Linked DNA regions of Homo sapiens: regions 2, 3, 4 and 5 are each reported to be linked to region 1. The links are microRNA targets in miRTarBase. Many come from high-throughput screens and were not tested one by one. Region 1 holds a microRNA gene; each other region holds the end of a gene's coding sequence. Distances are from middle to middle.

What was found. The annotated mature microRNA hsa-miR-5089-5p reads GUGGGAUUUCUGAGUAGCAUC and lies in region 1 at 2,149-2,169, shown strand. An mRNA with a match to its seed (bases 2 to 7 or 8) in the 3' UTR can be bound and repressed. Matches are read on the target gene's strand: a 7mer-m8 pairs with bases 2 to 8, a 7mer-A1 pairs with bases 2 to 7 and ends in A, and an 8mer does both.
Region 2: the mRNA of TNRC6B is a reported target of hsa-miR-5089-5p. Seed matches in the 3' UTR shown: 7mer-A1 at 1,106-1,112.
Region 3: the mRNA of IGFBP5 is a reported target of hsa-miR-5089-5p. Seed matches in the 3' UTR shown: 7mer-A1 at 1,243-1,249.
Region 4: miRTarBase lists TLCD2 as a target of hsa-miR-5089-5p. Seed matches in the 3' UTR shown: 7mer-m8 at 2,211-2,217, 7mer-m8 at 2,345-2,351, 7mer-m8 at 3,483-3,489 and 7mer-m8 at 4,087-4,093.
Region 5: miRTarBase lists TRIM73 as a target of hsa-miR-5089-5p. Seed matches in the 3' UTR shown: 7mer-m8 at 765-771.

What each region holds. Positions count from the first base shown.
Region 1 is chr17:46,970,879-46,974,994 of GRCh38, forward strand. It overlaps MIR5089 (microRNA 5089), which reads left to right and starts at 2,139; the gene lies at 2,139-2,222. It also overlaps a transcript of LRRC37A2 not described here and a transcript of GOSR2 not described here.
Region 2 is chr22:40,322,750-40,326,865 of GRCh38, reverse strand. It overlaps TNRC6B (trinucleotide repeat containing adaptor 6B), which reads right to left. Exons shown (of 23, transcript NM_001162501.2): 23 at 1-4,012. The coding sequence ends at 3,625. Among named protein-coding and RNA genes, the nearest start is that of ADSL, 22 kb to the left of the region's middle.
Region 3 is chr2:216,673,011-216,677,117 of GRCh38, forward strand. It overlaps IGFBP5 (insulin like growth factor binding protein 5), which reads right to left. Exons shown (of 4, transcript NM_000599.4): 4 at 1-3,872. The coding sequence ends at 3,741. Among named protein-coding and RNA genes, the nearest start is that of IGFBP-AS1, 19 kb to the right of the region's middle.
Region 4 is chr17:1,704,342-1,708,457 of GRCh38, reverse strand. TLCD2 (TLC domain containing 2) reads left to right here. Exons shown (of 4, transcript NM_001164407.2): 4 at 236-4,116. The coding sequence ends at 688. Among named protein-coding and RNA genes, the nearest start is that of TLCD2, 4.0 kb to the left of the region's middle.
Region 5 is chr7:75,404,717-75,408,832 of GRCh38, forward strand. TRIM73 (tripartite motif containing 73) reads left to right here. Exons shown (of 5, transcript NM_198924.4): 4 at 123-353; 5 at 466-889. The coding sequence ends at 492. It overlaps LOC124901676 (a long non-coding RNA gene), which reads right to left. Exons shown (of 2, transcript XR_007060389.1): 2 at 2,992-4,116. Among named protein-coding and RNA genes, the nearest start is that of TRIM73, 11 kb to the left of the region's middle.

The DNA of each region.
Region 1 (4,116 bases):
TGCTAGAATAACATTTTCTGGAGAAAATCTCAAACCTAATTCTATCGATCCCTCAAAATATGAAAGGCTGCATGCCAAAGGATTAATAGTGATTCCTTCTAGGTTGCAGGAATGTGGCTACTGTTTGCCAACATTTTTCTTTTTTTTGTTGCTATAAATGTTAATTACTTGTATCATCGCTTTAAAACATAGGCCGGTGCGGTGGCTCATGCCTGTAATCCCAGCACTTACAGTGGATCATTTGAGGTCAGGAGTTTGAGACCAGCGTGGCCGACATGGTGAAAACCCATCTCTACTAACATATAAAAATGAGCCAGGCATGGTGGTGGGTGCCTGTAATCTCAGCTACTTGGGAGGCTGAGGGAGGAGAATCACTTGAACTTGGGAGGCAGAGGTTGCAGTGAGCTGAGATCGCACTACTGCACTCCAGCCTGGGCAACAGAGCGAGACTCCTTCTCAAAATTAATTAATTAATTAATTAAAAAGGAAAAATATAATAAGGACACACTCCATGGCTTCTGCAGTCTCTTCTGAGCTGATAGTCAAGGTCCTGGCATGGCTTGGCTCTCCTCCAGTGCTGGGTTAGGGGCTCTGTGACCCAGTGCCCCACCCTAGCCTGGCCTAACTATATCCTTTGCTGACCTTGAACCCCACACAGATCCTGGCAAAGCTGCATGGCTCCATGAATACATGTATGTACATGTAGGAGCTTTTCATGCACTTTCTCACTTAAACTTTCCAACCACCTAGAGAGCTCAGCTAGAGTACCTCACTTTACAGATGAAGAAACAGGCCTTGGAAGGTGAAGCGACTTTCTCTGATGACTGGAAAGTGTGGAGGGAAGTCCTGCACCCCGACCTGCCTGTATCAAAGACTTGTCTCTCACGCCTCAAGCTCTGTGGTTCTGTGCACACCTCACCAGGCCCCCACTCACCCATCTAACATGTGTTTGTTCTGTGTGCATGTTTTTCTTCTGTGTTCTGGGCCACACCTGTTGGGCACCTCTCCCTCCCCGGCAAGGGGGAAGCTTTAGGAAGTAGAGAGAAAGGCAGGGCACAGGGCCTGGCTCTGAGGAAGGGTCACACTTACAGCCAGGCCTGGGGCTGGTGGGGTAGGCAGAGGGCACAGGGCACGTGGGGGAGAGGGGGGACCTTCCCAAGACAGGGAACTGTCTCAACCATAATCACCCTCAGTGTTGCTGCTTCCCCGCTTTATGTTCTATAGAGACACCCGGAGGGGACAGCCTGCTGTGGTGGGCACTGTGCTGGGCCCAGGCTGTGTGCTGACAGAACCCTGGGGCTGGGCTGGGGCAGGAGGCGAGACCCTGGCTTCCTGCTTTGCTTCTCCCGCCACCCGCTTCTTCCTCCTCTCTTCCCTTCTCCTTCCATCCCATCTTCTCCCTGCTGTCCTTTCATATGCTTCCTCTTCCCCCTTCTTTCTCCTCCTCCTCCTCTCCCTTCTTCATTTCTAGTCCAGCTATAGTGGGAAGAAGTCCCTGCAAGGAGCTCTGGCTCTTGGCCAAGAGGGAAGGAGAACCTGGGACAGGAAAGGATTCCCAGCAAAGGGTTGCACACTGGGCACCCCGAGCCCTTGCTGAACCTCAGCTTTGGAGCACAAGGTGGAATTCAGGTTTGTCAGCCTCCCCAGCTCAGCAGGGAACCAGCAGTCTGCACAATGTGACCGTTGGTGACGGATGTTGGCCTCTGCCCATCTGGCTGCATTGCTGTCAACATACAGGTTCCATGTCCCGGGCTTTCTGCCCAGGCACTCCCCTGCAAAGTGAGCCCCAGGAGAAACCCGGGTTTACAGCTGCTCTGTAGCCCCAAACCCTGTACCCCACTGGCTGACGCTGGCTACCCAAAAAGAAATTATTGAGGCACAGAGGATGGCAGCACTCAATCTCCCGTGTGGACGAGCGTCTCTGCAGTCATATTATTAGCATCTCGAGGGCAGAGCCTGAGTTGCCTTCACCTCTGCAACTTCCTTAGCACCCAGCATTAGGAGAGCGACATAAGACACACCTAAAAAATACTGGCACTGACATGCAAACCTAGGTCTTGTACGTCAAGTTTATTAGGAGTGTAAAACTTCTTGTAGTATTCCCTCTAACTTAGCCAGGTGGGAAAGTGTCAAATAAAAAGGACTTCAGTGGGATTTCTGAGTAGCATCCTTGGAATCTGCACTCAAGGGATGCTACTCGGAAATCCCACTGAAGTCCTTTTAATTAAATGTGTGTGCATGTGTGCAACCCACATGTGTACACGTATACCTTGCCCCCAAAACTGGAATGCCGGATGAGGGCCATTTCTGCTGTACCCACTGCCTCTGCCACTCATTAGCTGAGTGTGACCTTGAGCCCATTATCTAACCACACAACCAGATGACAATCTCATATGACAGCTGGCTTGCTCACTCTCACTCTGCTGCTGCTTTTTTCTTTTTCTTTTCTTTTTTCTTTTTTGCCATATAGATGGGGGTCCCACTGTGTTGCCCAGGCTGGTCTCGAACTCGTGGGCTCAAGTGATTCGCCCACCTTAGCCTCCCAAATTACTGGGATTACAGGGATGAGCCACCACACCTAGCCTCTGTTGCTTCGTTGTTGAAAATTGTTGAGATCTAGCGTTCCCCATGGGTTAAACTCTCCTTATCCATGGACTGGAGTGCACTTATCATGGGATCTCAAGTCTAAGTAATAGAACTATGACTGCAAGGGTGAGCAGGCGCTGCCTCAGAACACCCCGCAATGCTGTCATCTCAGAGGCTGGGACACCTGCCCCGTCTGCCGAGCTGGGGTTTGCTGTCCTGGACACCCCGTGTATCTGCTGTGATCTTTATTGACAAGAAAGAATCTTGCTTTCTTGACAAGAATCTGCACTCAAGAGATACTACTCGGAAATCCCACTTAAGTCCTTTTTATTAAATGTGTGTGCATGCGTGCGACACATGTGTACACGTATACCTTTCCCCCAAACTGGAATGCTGGATGGGGGCCATTTCTGCTGTACCCGCCACCTCGCATGCTCCATTCTTTGCCTCTGAAGCCACCCCCAAAGCTCAAGGCTTCTTTCCATCTACTACTGAGTTGGGGTCTGGGGAGGGCGACCCCCAGCAGCCACAGCCGTGCACCCCTCTATGTGAACTTGGCTTAGACAAGTAAGTAAGAAAGTAAGTGGATGTGGTGATGTAAGCCCTCCCTACTTCCCCCGTTCTAGGGGACATCTTGCTGGTGAAGGCACAGCTGACCCCAGAAGTACTATCCCCGACTCAGAGGACAGGATGTGGGGGATTTGACCTAGGCCCTGAGACGCATGGAACCAGCTACCTGGGGAGCAAAGCAAGTGCCAGGGTTTCTGGGGCGCTGGCCAGGGCCAGACGCTAGGTCTGCCATCCGTTGCTCACCCAGTGCCTGGCACAGTGCCTAGCCCACAGGAGATTTACAATAGACACCGGTGGAATGAATGAGCTTGGACAAGATCAGTAAACAGAATCTTAATTTCCTCTCCTATAAACAGGAAATTAGAGGAGCATCTGCTCCTCTTACCAATGTGTTGTGGGGAGCAAAGGAGGTCATCTCCGCCGGGCGCGGTGGCTCACGCCTGTAATCCCAGCACTTTGGGAGGCCGAGGCGGGTGGATCACAAGGTCAGGAGATCGAGAGCATCCTGGCTAACACGGTGAAACCCCGTCTCTACTAAAAATACAAAAAATTAGCTGGGCGTGGTGGCGGGCGCCTGTAGTCCCAGCTACTCGGGAGGCTGAGGCAGGAGGATGGCGTGAACCCGGGAGGCAGAGCTTGCAGTGAGCCCAGATCGCACCACTGCACTCCAGCCTGGGGGACAGAGCAAGACTCTCTCTCAAAAAAAAAAAAAAAAGGTCATCTCAAGTGAAACTGATTTGAATCCCAGCTCTGCCCCTTTCTAGCTGCGCTACCTCAGGCAACCTCTTGGAGCCTCAGTTTCCTCATCTGTACAATGGGAGGAGCTACAAAACCTTCTTCGAGGGAGTGGAAGCTCAGTGTTTGGCATATTAGGCATTCGCTACTATTTTCGTCATGCTTATGAAAGTACTCTGAAAACTGCAAATGCTTTTCAAATATGAATTACTATTTTCTTTTTTT
Region 2 (4,116 bases), not on the chromosome of region 1:
TTCTCCTCCTCCCAAAACAAACGGAGGTAAGACAGACATTCTTCATTAATAGGACAGTCCATAGATAATTTTCCTCTAGTAATGCCTATATTTAAAATTTGTTCCAAAAATTATTAACCTATATTTCCTAACTCTTTACATAGATTCTCAGCAATCCAACTGTACTATTTTACAGATTACTTTTTTTTTTAAGCTGTTGTTTCTTCCTTCCTTCCTTTCTTTTGTTGCTGGGGTTGTGGGGACAAGGAGAAGGGTTCCTTTAAAAAAATAAAAATTACTAGGGGAGATTTCAGTTCAGTCTCAAATGGAAAGGAACAAAGTGATGGCATTCTCATCTATATACACCAAACACTCTCCCATTAAACTACACACAATTTCAAAAGAATCCATGATCGAGCTCTTACAAAGCTTAATCCTTCTCCCATATTTTTAAGATAATGAATTTACCTGTTGCTGCTAAATTGATAATTTTTAAAAAATATTTCTATGTGTTTTAAAATGTGTGATCCCCAGTATGACAATAATGTTTGGAGACTTTTCTTTTTACATTTTTTTAAGTAAAAATTGTTTAAACTTTCTGAAGTTTCAGGAACTTGTAAAAGTTTATTAACAGGAAAGAAACAGCCATCTCTCTAGGATAAGATATGGTTAAATAAACCATCTTCAAAAAACTGGCTTCCTACCCTAGAATTCCTGAGAATGCTTGCAAATTTTAAAGCAGGAAAACAAATGTTAAAAACAGAAACAAAAAACACTGTTAAATGCTCCCAGAGTTAGTCTTCATCTAAAATATATATTTATATGTATATATATACGCACTTTTTGGTCTTTTTTTTTTAAAGTTTTTAGTTTTTTTCCCTTTAAGCTTATGATGGAAGAACATTTTAGCTTCTCATGTTTATTTTTACATATTTCAAATCCCTCATTATGTCTTGTAAACAAGAGGGGCTCTAGCACCCGGCTTTCACCGTAGTATCGTAAGGAACTCAACTAACCCATAGTGCAGGTCAAGGAACCAACAGGCAGGAGGAGAGGAGGGTGGGGCAGGACACAGCAGTGAACCAAGAGCGGCAGTGGACAGGGTCGCCACTGGCTCGCAGGAGCCTTGGGATATGCTCCTGGCCCAGGGACACTAAGATTTAACCTTCTCTAGATGTCTGAATACAAGCTGCTCTTCACCTGGTGGTCACCGCACGACAGCACTTTGCTCCACACAGAGAGCGGTCAGTGGGGGCTGCTGGAAGCAGAGCTTTTGCATGGGGAACAGTGGTGGAAGGGGCACGGTGGTGATTCAAATTGCAGAGCAGGAAGAGGGCATGCTCAAGGCACCCAGCGGGGCCACGTCAATGCTGCAGATGCCAAGTGTGACCACCTACCCACAGAGGGCTCATGCAGGCTTGTATATGTGAACACTCACTTGAGTCATGCCTGTCAATCTCTTTTGAGGCTAGGTTTATAATCAACAGGGTAAGCCAGAAGGGCTACAGAATTTCCCATTCTTTGTCTCACAAAACCACTGAAATGCAAATAACTTGTTTTAGGCTTTTCCTATACACACCCACCCACCCACCTACACACAGACACAAGCTAAAAAGTCAAATACATTAGGCATTGTTGTATTGTATCCTTCACTGAAGACGCTAAAGAAAGAAAAACTCCCTTGTCCTCAATAGCAGCAAGTTACAGAGGACAGTAGAGGTCTGCTCCCACCAAGGGTTGGAATGGGCAGGTATTTGCTGGTACAAAATGTCGGCACTTTATGTTAAACAGCATAATGCAGACTGGGATGTCCACACAAGTGCTAGCACGTCACCGGCATCCATCCCCCCACCCTATCTGGTTTTTCGCCCCCTTCAGGTCTGCTATAATTCTCTTCACAATAAGCAGTTTGATACATTTTGATTCCGACATAAGTACATACATGTTGGTGATAACTGTAGATTAAACGTTGACCCCTGTTCGGCCCAGAGTACTACTACATTGATGCTTAAAAAAAAAAAAAAGTATTTAAATACCGAAATTAAAAAAGCAAAATTACAAGGTGGGGGGAAGAGGTCAAAAATCAAAAAAAGGTGCAATACTTAAAAGTCTTCGCTAAGTTATACCTGCCTAAGCAAAACCACATACACAGGAAATACACAACACAGAGAAACAAAAGGAAACGCTTGAAGTACACACTGGTTTAAGAACATTCGTTAAGTAAACGTTTCTGTCAGTGATGGCCTGGTGCTGTAACGCGCCACGGCCTGGCACAGGTAACGCTCGGCGAGAAAGGAGCAGAGGGAGTAGCTGCAGATGCTTTCAGGAGGCTGCTCACCACTTATTCTTTTCTGTTTTCATAAAATGAAAAAGAGAACCAACCAACAGAAATATGTAACTCAACTTCACCTAATTTTTTGAAGAATTTCTCAAACCTGATCATAAGGAAAGAGGGAACAAAGTTTCTCTGTTTTTGAGACATCGCATCATCAAAAGTTATCTTCCGTTCCCATTTCAAACTAACGAAAAGGCCTGCATGAAACTTAACAGATACTCAGATGTGCCTGGTGGCCATTCACTTAAAAAAAAAAAAAAACAGAAATAAACACACCGTTGCTCCAAGAGGTACCTCCTGCTCTAGTTTTTTGGACTTGGCAGTGCTCCACTCTACTGCTAGGTCAAAAGAACAGCCAGAGAAACCCCACATTCAGGCTAAGTTGCAAATGGAAAGGAGCTCCCTGCTTTCATCATTAAAAAGCACTCTGTTCATCTTAATGCAGCCCAATGGAGTTGCTTTAGTAGCAGTGGCTCTCCGGGCCTGTGTGTTCTCATAGTTAAAAAAATAAAATAAAAAGCAGATGGGCCGGCCAGCCAGCCTGCAGACTGTCAGCGATGCAGCTTTCTGAGAAGTCAGGGTGGGGCAGGGGAGAAGGGAAGAACACAGGCACACACACAGAGACAGAGAAGGATGCACGCGAATGCACATGAACACACGTGCACACACACACCAGAACGAGCATGCCTGGGCAGTTACATGTGCCAGAACACACTGGTATTTATCAACCAGCCAATCACAAATTTTTTCCTTTTTTTTTTTTTTAGGTTTTTTGTGTTTTTGTTTTTAAAGTGAGGCTCCGTCAAGTCTTCCCTCCCCCCTCCCCCAACAATTCTTTTGAATTTCCCTCCCTCCCAAACATGGTAGACCTAAGGACGGAAACACACCCAGTGCAAACAAAGTTAAAAAGCTATTTTTTTTCAGTATATATGTTTCTTAGCAACAACTTCCATATAACATGAAAAAAGTGAAAAACTAGAAACTAATTTTTTTAATTTTTTTGTGTTTAAATTTAAATGGTATGTGTACTTGCTTCACATTGTCTTTCTAGGTTGGCGTTCATGATTCAAGTATTTCAAGAGTGATATGTTCTCTTTTTGGATTCATATTCCAAACGAAAAAACTGAAGTTATAAGGGAGGCAACTATGTGCTCAGACAGTCTGTCAATGACCCACCTTTTTTTCTCTCCGTTTTCTTTTTTCCTTTTAAAAATGTATTTATTGCAAGTTGAAAAAAAAAACGAAAAGGTCAAGTTAGTGCTGCTGCTGTTCCAAAAAAGGTCACGAGGTCAGAGTTGAAAGTTCTAAGTTCAGATTGAATCCGACCCTCCTCCCAGAAGGTCACCAGGTAGTAAAGGAGCAGGGCTGCCCATCCTATGGGGATCTTCCACCGTTGGGACTCCCCATAAGCTAGAAGAATAGTTTGGGGGCCCCCACAATGAAGCGCCAGCAAGATCGGCCCCGCTGCTGCCACCAGCGCTGCTGCTCCACTGCCCGAGCCCAGTGGACCCACCAAAAAGATTCAGAGCAGGTCCCACGGGATCTGACTGGTTCTGGCCGGTCTCCAGCGACTGCCACCCCGCAGCTGGCGCACTTGGGGTTGCTGCAGGTGTAGGGGGCTGAGCTTGTGCCAGAAAGCGGCTGACTTCATCATCAGTGGCAAACTCAGCAAGGATGGTAGTGTTTCCCAACACACACCTGGAAGAAGGGAGGGAAAGAGAGCTATGGATCTCAGGAAAATCCTAAAGCATACGGAGGGAGCGACTGCAGTCCTTGACATTCAATGTGCAGTCCTTTGACTA
Region 3 (4,107 bases), not on the chromosome of region 1:
AAGCCAGACATATCCTCTCTGACGCTATGGGGTTTCTTCTCCTTAGAGCTCTTCTCTGAGGTTCCCATTCTGGGCCGGAGCCCTCTCAGGAGTGAGTGGATGGGTCCGGGGTACTGTCCCACCTTGAGGGGGGCTTGGCGGTTGCCGTGGCAGCCCTGTCTCACTAACCGGTGCGTGGCGGGAGCAGGTGGTTGAGGCCCACCCTCTAGGGGAGGCCAGCCCTGTGGGGGTACCATGGAGGCCACAGAGGTGGTGGTGGGGAGATGGGGTGGGAGAGAAGGGGCATGATCAGAAAAGGGCCTCCCTGGACCTCGTGCGCCTGCCTTCCTCCCCTCATGGGGCCAGTGTCCCCAGGCCTGTCTGTCTAGGCCTGGCTGTCAAAGAAAGGTTCCAGTCTCTTCCTCCCCATGTGCCCTGCTTTGCCAGGTGGGTCAGGGCAGGCTGGAGGAAGGAGGGTCAGTCCTGGCTGGGCTTCCCTATCTCCTGGCAGTCGTGGGAAAGACAGAGGCATCTTCCTCACTGGTGGAGTGAGGCACGAATCTAAAGGGGATGGGAAGACCTTCTGTGGGTGTGAGCATGGGAGTGGGCAGCACTTAGATTCGGAGCCATGGATAGTCCGGAGTCCAAGGTCTCTGGGTGAGCAGACAGTCGGCCAAAGGCCAGCCTGGAGTCAAAGAGACCAGACCCCTGCTTAGATTGCCATACTCGCACCATTCCAAACCTGCCTCCCTCACACCCTGCCATGGGGGAAGAGGTGCCGTCTTCCTCCAGTGCCTCCCTTCCCAGGATCTCCCCACCCTGGGCTCAGCCAGAACTCCCATTTGGGAGGCTTAGTTCCATGTGTCCATGAAGGCCCAGCTTCTCTGGGGAGTGACCAGCTGCCCAGGAGAAACTCCTGCATGCAGAAGAGACTCACAGGTTTGGGTTCGCAGGCACGAACTTTGGAAACCGGAAGAGTCTGGCGCACTTACACCAGGCTCTAATCCCCCACCTGATGGCTGGCAGCAAAGAGCCAACGCAAGGGGCAGAAGCCTGCTCAAAGTCCAGACACAGTCCGTGAAGAGAGAGCCCCTCTCAAGAATTAGGTCCAGGCTGGGAGGAATGTGGGGGGAGCTTGTAGTTCCTGGCTCAGTCTTTTCTCAGGGGAGTGGCACCCCAGTATCCACTTGGCAGATCCTAGTTGGATAACTGCTCAAGATGCAAAGGGAGAATGGGTGGAAAGAACAGTGACGTGGAAGAGGTTTGGGATACTGGCCTAAGACATACAGAAACGTGAGTTGGGTTTAGGGGACAGCTGTGCAGAGAGATGGGGCATGCTGACTCGGCAGGTCAAGGCCTTGTGGCTGCTGGCCCTATCGGGCCCCTTTGTCTCATGAAGATTGAGCACTTCTCCTGTCCCCAGCCAACTGTCCTGTCCAGGGGCATAGGAGATAGCCCCCAAGTTCTATAGCTATAGGGTTCCCATCAGTTGAAACAGATTTGCTTTTTCGCTATTCCTCTTCGTAGCCCCAAATTCGTTGTTGGAGGCGGTCTCCGCTGTGTCATGCCATGAGCAAAGAGTGAAGAGAGCTGTGTCCACAGCACGAAGGGGTCTCCTTGGCCAGTGTCCAAGCCCCCTTTCCTGGATATCTTCAGCCTTAAAGAACAGTCACAAGGCCACCCATTGGTTGAGGAAGTCATTGGAGAATGGGAGTTTCGGAATCTGGCTGCCGAGTGACAGCATCCCTGAATCATGCGTTCCCTGCTTGTCCCAGCTTTCCTTCCATCCTCCACCCCAGGGAGGATGCAGGGACTGGCCAGAATGGAGGAAGAGCTGGAAAGACTCGTGGGCCTCAGTCCCTCATTGCAGGCTGAAGGTGGGCAGCGGAGCACATAGTCTTGTCCCTTCCAAAGCATGGCCAGTTTAGACTGATTCTTCCTATCTGGCTTCTAAAGTCTAGCACCCTCCTAAAGTTACTCACCTTCCCTGGCTCTGCGGCCTGGATTAAGCTCATTTCTATTTTGCAACCCATTCCCCCATTTTCCTCTCTTTCCTCTCAAATCCTAGAAAATACATATGGTGGGGAAGCTAAGGAAATTTCTATTGGCTTTTCCCCCTTTCTGCTGCTTTGTGCCAAAGCTAGAATGGAACAGTCAGCCCCCTCTCCCTTCAGCCCTCTGTTCCTCCCCACATCGACTCTGGCCGGAACCATCCATCTTACTGTTCTCCTGCATCTAAACCTTTTTGCCACCATCTCCCTCTGCCATCTCTTACTTCAGTCTCCCTCCTGCTCTGCCAGCATGGAGAGTGAGGGAGGCTTCCAAAAATGCACATTCTGTTCAGATGAAAGGAAAAGGCTGGGGTGGGACTGGTGGATCCATCGTGGACCTGTTGGGCTCATGTGGTGTGGTGTCCGGAGACTGTGACTTCCTGAGGGTTTAAAGACTAAAATGGGATGGACTGAGGCGCGTGCTGTGTGCACCACGGAGGGCTGGCCTCTGCCTGGCTCGGTGGGTGCAGATGAACACACGTGGGGAATCACTGTCAAATCCAGTACTGTGCCCCACAAAAAAGCTGAGTTTATTGCTCACGGGAAACTCTGCCTCGAGGCAGGCAAAAATGCTATTACGGGTTGTATTAGGAGAATATGGGTTTTCTCAGTTTTCCCAGAATGAGGAAGCTCCTCAATGCCCCTATAGGAACTACTTTGAAAAGTTAATGCAAACCTTTGAAAGAAAGGAAGAAAGAAAAAAACAAAGAAAAAGAATAGATTTATATGCCTATATATGACTATATGGAGTCCTGTAGATAAATACGAGCCCACTTTTTTTTTTCAGCCTATCCTCCCCCACAGAGGCTGCTGCGCTACTTACAAATTGAATTAAATGAGGGCTGAAACGGCACGCTTCAGCATGTACTGTAGTCACCGTGGAAGAACAAGTCTTTCCAATATTGGGGCATGTATTGATTTCTAAAAAATGTCTGCCTGGGGAATGAAATATGCACATGTATTTCATATTCACAGATCTGCTTCCGAAAACCTCTCTATTTAATATCACTCAATTATGAATTTGTTTTGCTTTCAGAGGAATGGAATGCATTTTAGTTTTTATAAATTTGGGGAGAGACAACACTCTGCCCAGGTAAGAGGAGAGGAAGTTCAGGGGTCCAGCTGTCCATACTGCTGGCTAGAGGAGGAGACAGATCCGGGAGAGGTCCTGGAGTGTTTTGCCTTTTCCTTTCTCCCCCTGACCAATCCATCCTGGGAAACCCCAATAGTGTCATTGATTGCCACATCCTGGGCTGCATCTTCTAGCGCCCACCTCTCCCGACCCCAGGCCAGGGCTGGACGTGAAAGTTGGGCCCCTGCCTGGTCTCGGTGCATGTCCTTCCTGCCCACCTGCTTGTCTTCCTTTTCCTAACTCTATTCGTCTTTCTCTCTCTTCTACACAAACACTTCCTTCCCTTCTCTTCCTCTCGTTCTTCCTCTCTTCCCTTCTCTGTTCATCCAACTTGCCTCAAAAAGAAAACCATTTAAAGGGGGGGGGTGTCTTTTTAGCTTTTTGCATCTCTGTTGTTGCCATTTTCGAAGTTGAGCCCTTGCTAGAGATTCCGAGGTCCTCAGTTTCCTCAAATAGATAGATATATATTTTTCCCTTAAATGAGATGAAATGAGTGGCGTCCTGGGGTGGAGGGAGGCGCTGGCTGGAGTCGGGGCTGGGGGTGGGAGGGGGTGAGGGAAAGGTTGGGGGGGGACGCATCACTCAACGTTGCTGCTGTCGAAGGTGTGGCACTGAAAGTCCCCGTCAACGTACTCCATGCCTGGCAGCTTCATCCCGTACTTGTCCACGCACCAGCAGATGCCACGTTTGCGGCCACGGGAAGGTTTGCACTGGGGTGAGTAGAGCAACAGGCGGTGAGGACGGCCGCACCCCAGGGCTCTGCTCCTCCCTGCCCTGCCTCTTGTCTACCCCAAGGCAAGACTCTCATCCCCAGAGAGTTGAGGGCACTAGACCCGACCCTTGGGTTTCTGGTGTCCCCATTTCACGGAAAGACCCAGGGAAAATGTGAATTTAGGCAGCCTACCCTTGGCAAGCTCCTTCAATCCCTTTCTTTCCTTTTTTTTT
Region 4 (4,116 bases), 45 Mb from region 1:
GGTTAAGGGGGTATTAGGGGGTGAGACAGCCCCTCCCTGGGCCAAGCCTGGTTCCATCTATGGAAGGGTTGTTTCAAGGCTGCTCAGGGCCCCAGGATAAAGGTAAAAGCATAAAGGTCAGGTGTTTGGGGAGCCCCACAGACTGCGTGGAAGCCTCTTTCTTCAGGCCTGGGTTATTGGGACATGATGGCTGGCAGGTCATGGGGTTCCTCTGACCTGTGACCCTGGCTCCCAGGTGGTGAGCTGCCTCAGCACCGCTGTTCTGTCTGGCCACTACGTGGGCTTCTCCATGGTGTCTCTGCTCCTGGAACTGAACTCTGCCTGCTTGCACCTGCGGAAGCTGCTGTTGCTTTCTCGCCAGGCCCCATCCCTGGCCTTCAGCGTGACCAGCTGGGCCTCCTTGGCCACCTTGGCCCTCTTCCGCCTGGTCCCGCTGGGGTGGATGAGTCTGTGGCTGTTCCGGCAGCACCACCAGGTTCCTCTTGCTCTGGTCACCCTGGGTGGAATTGGGCTGGTCACTGTGGGCATCATGAGCATCATATTGGGGATCCGTATTCTGGTCAATGATGTCCTACAGTCTCGACCCCATCCACCCAGCCCTGGCCATGAGAAAACCAGGGGGACCAGGACACGTCGTGACAATGGACCTGTCACCAGCAACAGTTCGACTCTCAGCCTGAAAGACTAGAGAGAAGCCATGGGCCCCTCGCTGGGGGAGGTGGGGCCAGGACAAGGAGATGAGGGTCTTCCATGCACAGTCCCCCATCAGGGTGAGGGCCAGACTTGCTCATCAGAATCTCAGTTTCTCTTCCAGCTAACTCACATCCCTTCCCCTTCCTCGGATCTAAGAAGAAATGCTGATGTTGGATGGGTGGGAACCTGGGTTTCTGTTCACTGAAATCCGTCATCAGATGAGCATCCTTTCCAGCAAATAAACTCAAGAGGTACAGCTAGAGCTATCAGTAAAGGGTGGCAGGAGGCATGCAGCTGGAAGAAACTGCCAGTGGAGACAGAAGCTCTTTGCTTTAACCCAGGGACAGATGGGGGAAGGTGAAGTCCCACTAGGATCAGAGAGATCTGGTATGGGGCGGGTGGGGACAGAGAGAAAAGAGATCTCACCTATAACCAAATTCTGGCAGTGGGAGGAAGGTAGAGGAGGTGCTATCTGTAGCAGCAGAGATGGACGTGATAGTTGCCAAGAGACAGAACCTGGGCCACAGCAATTGCTGCTGATGTTTCTGGTTCTCAAAGCCACACTCCTGTTTTTCTTTTTCTTTTTCTTTTTTTTTATGAGACGGAATCTTACTCTGTCACCCAGGCTGGAGTGTAGTGGCACGATTTCGGCTCACTGCAACCTCAGCCTCCTGGGTTCAAGTGATTGTCCTGCCTTAGCCTCCCGAGTAGCTGTGACTTCAGGCATGCACCACCAAGCCCAGCTAATTTTTGTATTTTTTGGTGGAGAGGAGGTTTCACCATGTTGCCCAGGCTGGTCTCGAACTCCTGACCTCAAGTAATCCACCTGCCTCGGCCTCCCAGAGTGCTGGGATTACAGACGTGAGAACAGGCGCACACTCCTGTTTTTCTCCTTAACCCTGGTCCTGCTGTGTCTAGCCTTTTATTTTTATTTTTATTTTTAGTATCTTTTGACTTTTCTTTTTTCTTTTCTTTTTTTTTTTTTTTTTTTGAGACAAGTTCTTGCTCTGTTGCCCAGGATGGAGTGCAGTGGCTTGATCTTGGCTCACTGCAATCTCTGCCTCCCAGGCTCAAGCAATTCTCCTGCCTCCCACCTCAGCCTCCCAAGTAGCTGGGACTACAGGTGCACGCCACTGCACCAGGCTAATTTTTGTATTTTTTTGTAGAGACCAGGTTTTGCCATGTTGCCCAGGCTGGTCTCAAACTTTTGCACTCAAGTGATCCACCCACCTCAGCCTCCCAAAGTGCTGGGATTACAGACGTGAGCCACCGTACCCGACCCCTTTTGACTTTTCAAAGACAATTCGGATTCTTAGAGGAATGAACACAGGGCTGGTTTGTCTTCTTAGGACGGCACTGAAGTCTAGAATTACAGAAGGAAAGGTGCCCAGTACAGAGTTTTCCCAGGCCCAGGCTTTCATGGAAGAACAAGGGCAGAGGTAGACTGTGTGAGAGAAGGCTGCAGGAGGATAAAGGAATAGCTGGCCCTCTGGCTGGGCGCAGCAGCTCACGCCTGTAATCCCAGCACTTTGGGAGGCCGAGGCGGGAGGATCACCTGAGGTCAGGAGTTCAAGACCAGCCTGGTCAACATGGTGAAACCCTGTCTCTACTAAAAATACAAAATTAGCCGGGCATGGTGGTGCATGCCTGTAATCCCAGCTACTCAGGAGGCTGAGGCAGGAGAATCGCTTGAACCCAGGAGGCAGAGGTTGCAGTGAGCCGAGGTCGTGCCACTGCACTCCAGCCTGGGCAAACAGAGTGAGACTCTTGTCTCTAAAGAAAAAAAAAAAAGGAAGAGCTGGGACTTTTCTGAGATACATTCATAAAGTCTTCTTCCTCCCTGCTGCTTCTGCTGCGTTTTTTTCTGTTGAACAAGACCCCTTCCTTCCCAGAACATCGAGGTGACGGGAAGTGCCCAGCAGATTAAGTCTGCTGTTCCACTAAACAATGGACTGAGAGAGGCAACCCTTAGCCATCCACAGAAAAGCTACATGAGCAAAAGCAAGAGACAGGAAGATTGTCTTCAAAAAAAAACAAAACAAAACAAAAACCTTGCTAAGAAGCGGAGGTACAGAAAGATACGAAGAATGACAGAGACAGACATACATAGATTGAGTGATAGATAGAAAGAGAGAAGGATTATTCACATAGAGGTGACAGAGGCAAAGAAGGATGGAGGGCAAAAGAGACAGGCCCTAGCAGAAATATGGAGAAAGGCTGTCATAGATCCTGAGAGACACCAAAGTCACAGAACTGATAAAAGGGTTATAAACAAAAAGGACCAGAAAAATAGAAATGAAGGCCGACAAGAAGAGACCCCAAGGCTGAAAGGCACAGAGAGTCTAGACAGTGAAATAGAGTGAGTGACAAGGAGAAACACCCAGGCTCAGGAGTGATGGAGGAAATACTGGCAGATAGAGAGATCAGAAGAGCAAGAGGAGAGGTGGGAACAGAGAAGAGCGGGGACGAGTCCGGGGAGCTGAGAAGCAGAAGGCGGAGGAGGCAGTCAGTGGGAAGATTCACTGACAGAAGAGACCAGGAGATATGGGGACTTGGAGGCAGGCAGAAAGACAAAGGACAAACAGCTGCAGCGCAAACCCTAAAGACAGGCTGACAGTAACCGGTCGGCAGAGACTGGTAGGAAGATAAGGACAAGTCAGAATCAGGGGTGTCAACTGAGATGCAAATATAGGCAAAGGAGCTGACAAAGAGAATCACAGAGAGAAAAAAAAGGAGGAGAGCACAGAACAATTTAAATATCCAGGCTGGGCATGGTGGGTCACGCCTGTAATCCCAGCATTTTGGGAGGCCGAGGCAGGCGGATCACGAGGTCAGGAGATGACCATCCTGGCTAACATGGTGAAACACCATCTCTACTAAAAATACAAAAAATTGGCCGGGCGTGGTGGCAGGCGCCCGTAATCCCGGCTACTGAGGAGGCTGAGGCAGGAGAATCGTTTGAACCTGGGAGGCCGAGGTTGTTATAATGAGCCGAGATAGTGCCACTGCAGTCCAGCAGGGGTGACAGAGTGAGACTCCGTCTCAAAAAAAAAAATTGAATATCCAAAGAACAAAGAAGAGGCAGGAACCCAGAAATGAAAAGAGGAGGAAAAATACAGGTGTGAAAAAAAAATGAGAGGGATTGTGAGAAGTCTCCATCATAGAGTCATAAAAACAGGCGCAAAGGATGAAAATACATCGAGACTGAGGAAAACACAGTTGGAAGGAGCTAAACACAAGCAGAAAATAAGAGCAGAGCATTTAAATGTAATTAGATAAAAACCCAAGAGGCAAAGGTATAGATAGTGAGCTAGAGAAACAATGCAGAATTTTGTCAGAGTCTGTACTTCTAGAAGTCATGTTTGCTGGCTGGGCATGGTGGCTCACGCCTGTAATCCCAGCACTTTGGGAGGCCGAGGTAGG
Region 5 (4,116 bases), not on the chromosome of region 1:
TCCCCTGAGACTCAGGTCCCAGGACCAACCCGGTCAGGAAGGCCCTGGGGACACCGAGGCCAGCCAGACAGAGCCTGGCAGCTCGGCTGTGACTCTGCAGTGAGCAGCCCTCCCTGTCCCAGAATGAGTCGGATGTCTTCAGCTGGGTGATCCGCCGCGAGTTCCAGGAGCTGCGCCACCCGGTGGACGAGGAGAAGGCCCGCTGCCTGGAGGGGATAGGGGGTCACACCCGTGGCCTGGTGGCCTCCCTGGACATGCAGCTGGAGCAGGCCCAGGGAACCCGGGAGCGGCTGGCCCAAGCCGAGTGTGTGCTGGAACAGTTCGGCAATGAGGACCACCATGAGTTCATCTGGGTGAGTGGACAGGGAGGCGTCCCATCCCCATACCCGCCAGGGCCTTCCCCTTCCCAACAGTGCCCTGGCTTCCCACCTTCTAGCCTTAACCTCCCTCTCTCTTGCCTTCCAGAAGTTCCACTCCATGGCCTCCAGGTAATAACCTTGGAGAGAGCTCAGCCAGGGTCTGGTGGCTGCGGGCACGGGCATCTCAGCTCCACTGGTTCCTCCATTCAGCTTAACCAGCGCCTCCCAAGCAGCTGCCTATAGCTGGCTCTATAACTGAGCCTGGGGAAGATAGAGGAAAGTCACGTCCCTGCCTTCAAGGGTCTCGCAGACAGGTGGGGAGGCAGATGGTGAACTGTGGGTACCTAGAACAGCAGAAGTTCACTCAAGCTACAGAAATACTAGAGGAGGGTAGCTCATGCCTGCAATCCCAGTACTTTGGGAGGCCAAGGCAGGAGTATTGCTGGAGGCCGGGAGTTCGAGACCAGCCTGGCCAATGTAGTAACACCCCCGTCTCTACAAAAAATACAAAAATAAAAAAATTAGTTGGGCATGGTGGCATGCGCCTATAGTCCCTGCTACTCATAAGGCTGAGATGGGAGGATTGCTTGAGCCCAAAGTTTGATGCTGCAGTGAGTCATGATCATGCTACTGCATGATCCAGCCTGGGTGACAGAGCGAGACCCTGTCTCAGAAAACAAAACACTAGAGGAGGAGCAGGTGTCTGGGAGGCCTGGCAGAGGGGCACACGCCTGATGGCTGAGAAGGGCCCAGGACCCGAGTTTGCCAGGCAAGCCGAGGGAACAGTCCTGTAAAAGGGGGAGTGGCGTGCGGACTCTGGTTATGAGAAGTTCAGGGTGGCTGGATGTAAGGCAGGATATCAGGAGGAGTGGGAGCTGGGAGAGGTGGGAAATGGCCAGAAGCAACATCCAGGAGCACCAGGCATCCCTTGCTTACCGTCCTCACCCTTGCGCAGCAGGCAGTATCAGCCCTGCCTGAAACTTGCTCTGCAGATTGTGGGAAGAGAGCGGATCCATGTTCTAGACCCAACAAACGAACACGTGCAGTTCCCAAGCCTTCCTCACTCCCTGTTTATGGGAGACTCCTTGTTTCTCACATTTCTTTTAGTCTTAGAGACAATTTGGTCAGGAGACATGGGTTTAAATGAAGGCACAGAGCCTGGGCACAGCAGCTTACACCTGTAATCCCAGCACTTTGGAAGGCCAAGGCAGAAGGATGACTTGAGGTCAGGAGATCAAGACCAGCCTGGCCAACATGGTGAAACCCTGTCTCTATGAAAAATACAAAAATTAGCTGGGTGTGGTGGCACATACCTGTAATCCCAGCTACTCGGGAGGCTGAGGCACGAGAATCTCTTGAACCTGGGAGGTGGAGGTTGCAGTGAGCTGAGATTGCTCCACTGCACTCCAGCCTGGGTGACAGAGCAAGACTCCATCTCAAAAAAAAAAGAAAAGAAAACAAGAAAAAAAAAAGTCCGGGCATGGTGGCTCATGCCTATAATCCCAGCACTTTATGCTCAAGTCTGCTTTTTTTTTTTTTTTTTTTGAGATGGAGTCTCGCTCTGTCACCCAGGCTGGAGTGCAGTGGCACGATCTCAGCTCACTGCAACCTACACCTCTCAGGTTCAAGTGATCTCCTGCCTCAGCCTCCCGAGTAGCTGGGATTACAGGTGTGCACCCCATGCTCAGCTAATTTTTTTATTTTTAATATAGATGGGGTTTTGCCATGTTGACCATGCTGGTCTCGAACTCCTGACCTCAAATGATTCGCCTGCCTCGGCCTCCCAAAGTGCTGGGATTACAGGCGTGAGCCACCGTGCCCAGCCTTGAGTCTTTATTTTTAGAGACAGGATCTTGCTCTGTCACCCAGGCTGGAGCGCAGTGGTGCAACTGTAGCTCACTGCAGCCTTGACCTCCCAGGCTCAAGTGATCCTCCTGCCTCAGCCTCCTGAGTAGCTGGGACGACAAGTGTCTGCTACCATACCCAGCTAATATTTAAATTTTTAGTAGAGATGGGATCTTGCTATGTTACCCAGGCTGGTCTGGGCCTCAAGCAATCCTCCCACCTTGGCCTCCCAAAGTGTTGGGATTATAGGTGTGAGCCACTGTGCTTAGCCTCCCATAACCCTTTGATTCACGATACTCATAGGCTAAGTGGGTCCTGGAAGCTCCGGGGTAGCCTTCTAACCAAGATGCTGGCTCTGGCCACTGGAAGTCAAACTGGGTGCACAGACCAGTGAGAGGGCATGAGGGAGCCTAGCAGGGGTGAACAGCAACCCTCAGCCTCCCCACAGCCCTGCCTCTCCTCCTGCCTCTCCTCGGTCTCCTTTGAGGATTCAGCCTCTCGTCCTCACCACTTATGGTCTGAGGGCCTCCAGGCTCCTCTTCTGGCTGTCTACCCCTCCACACCCATAGCTCCAGTCATCACTTCCACAGGGATGACTCAGAAGTTCCCTCTCCGGGAGACCCGTCCCTTACAGGCCACATCCAGTAGCGCTCCAGCCATTCAGCAGCTCCGCCTGGACGTCAAGGGCATGTCCAAAACCGCGCTCATGATCTTCCTACTCCCCCATCCCTGAGATTTATCCTGTGGCTGTGGTGTCCTGTGGCTACTGTAACAAATGACCACAAACTTGGTGGCTTCAAACAAATTTAATCTCTCATGGTTCTGAAGGCCAGATGTCCAAGATCACGATGACGGCAAGGCCGCGCTCCCTCTGGAGACTGTCGGGGAAAACCTGCCCCTTTCCTCTTCAGCTTCAGGTGGTGGCTGCCATGCCCTGGTGTTTCCTGGCCTGTGACCGCATCATTCCAATCTCTGCCTCCATCTTCACGTGGCCTTTTCTGTATGTGCCGGTCTAATCTTCCTCTGCTTCTCTCTTATTTTTTGTTTTTTGAGACAGAGTCTCACTCTGTTGCCCAGGCTGGAGTGCAGTGGTGTGATCTCGGCTCACTGCAACCGCCACTTCCCAGGTTCAAGCAATTCCCTTAACTTAGCCCCCTGAGTAGCTGGGATTACAGGCGTGCACTCAGCAAATTTTTGTGTTTTTAGTAGAGACGTGGTTTCACCATGTTGGCTAGGCTGGTTGTGAACTCCTGGGCTCAAGGGATCCACCAGCCTCAGTCTCCCAAAGTGCTGGGATTACAGGTGTGACCCACTGCGCTTCTCCCTATAAGAGAGGCCTTCCTCTGCCTCTCTCTTATAGGGATACTTGTGATGCCATGCAGGACCTGCCCAGATAATCCAGGATAACCTTCTCTCCAAATCCTTCCCCTGATCACTCCTACAGATCTCTTCCATAGAAGGTGACATTTCCAGGCTCTAGGAATTAGGACCTGCTCTCTCTGGGTGGCCGTTGTTCACTCCACCACCCCAGGTTTCCCCATCCTACCAAAAGACACAGCAGCATTGTGTCAACTGCCCAAACTGAAAACCTATGAGTTATTCTCGACCTGACCTTTTTCCTGAGCAAGTTCTGTGGATTTAACTTAGCGGTCACACTGCCAACTTCAACCGAACTCCACTGCCACCAACTCAGTCCAGGCCACCAGTTCTTGTTTAGGTGACTGCCATGACCCCCATTGGTCTCTCCCTGCCTCAACTCTGTCCCCTCCATCCTATATCCCCACACTGTAACCAGACTGATTATTTATTTATTTATTTATTTTTTGGGGAAAGAAGCTTGCTCTATCCCCCAGGCTGGAGTGCGGTGGCACAATCTCAGCTTACTGCAACCTCCGCCTCCCAGGTTCAAACG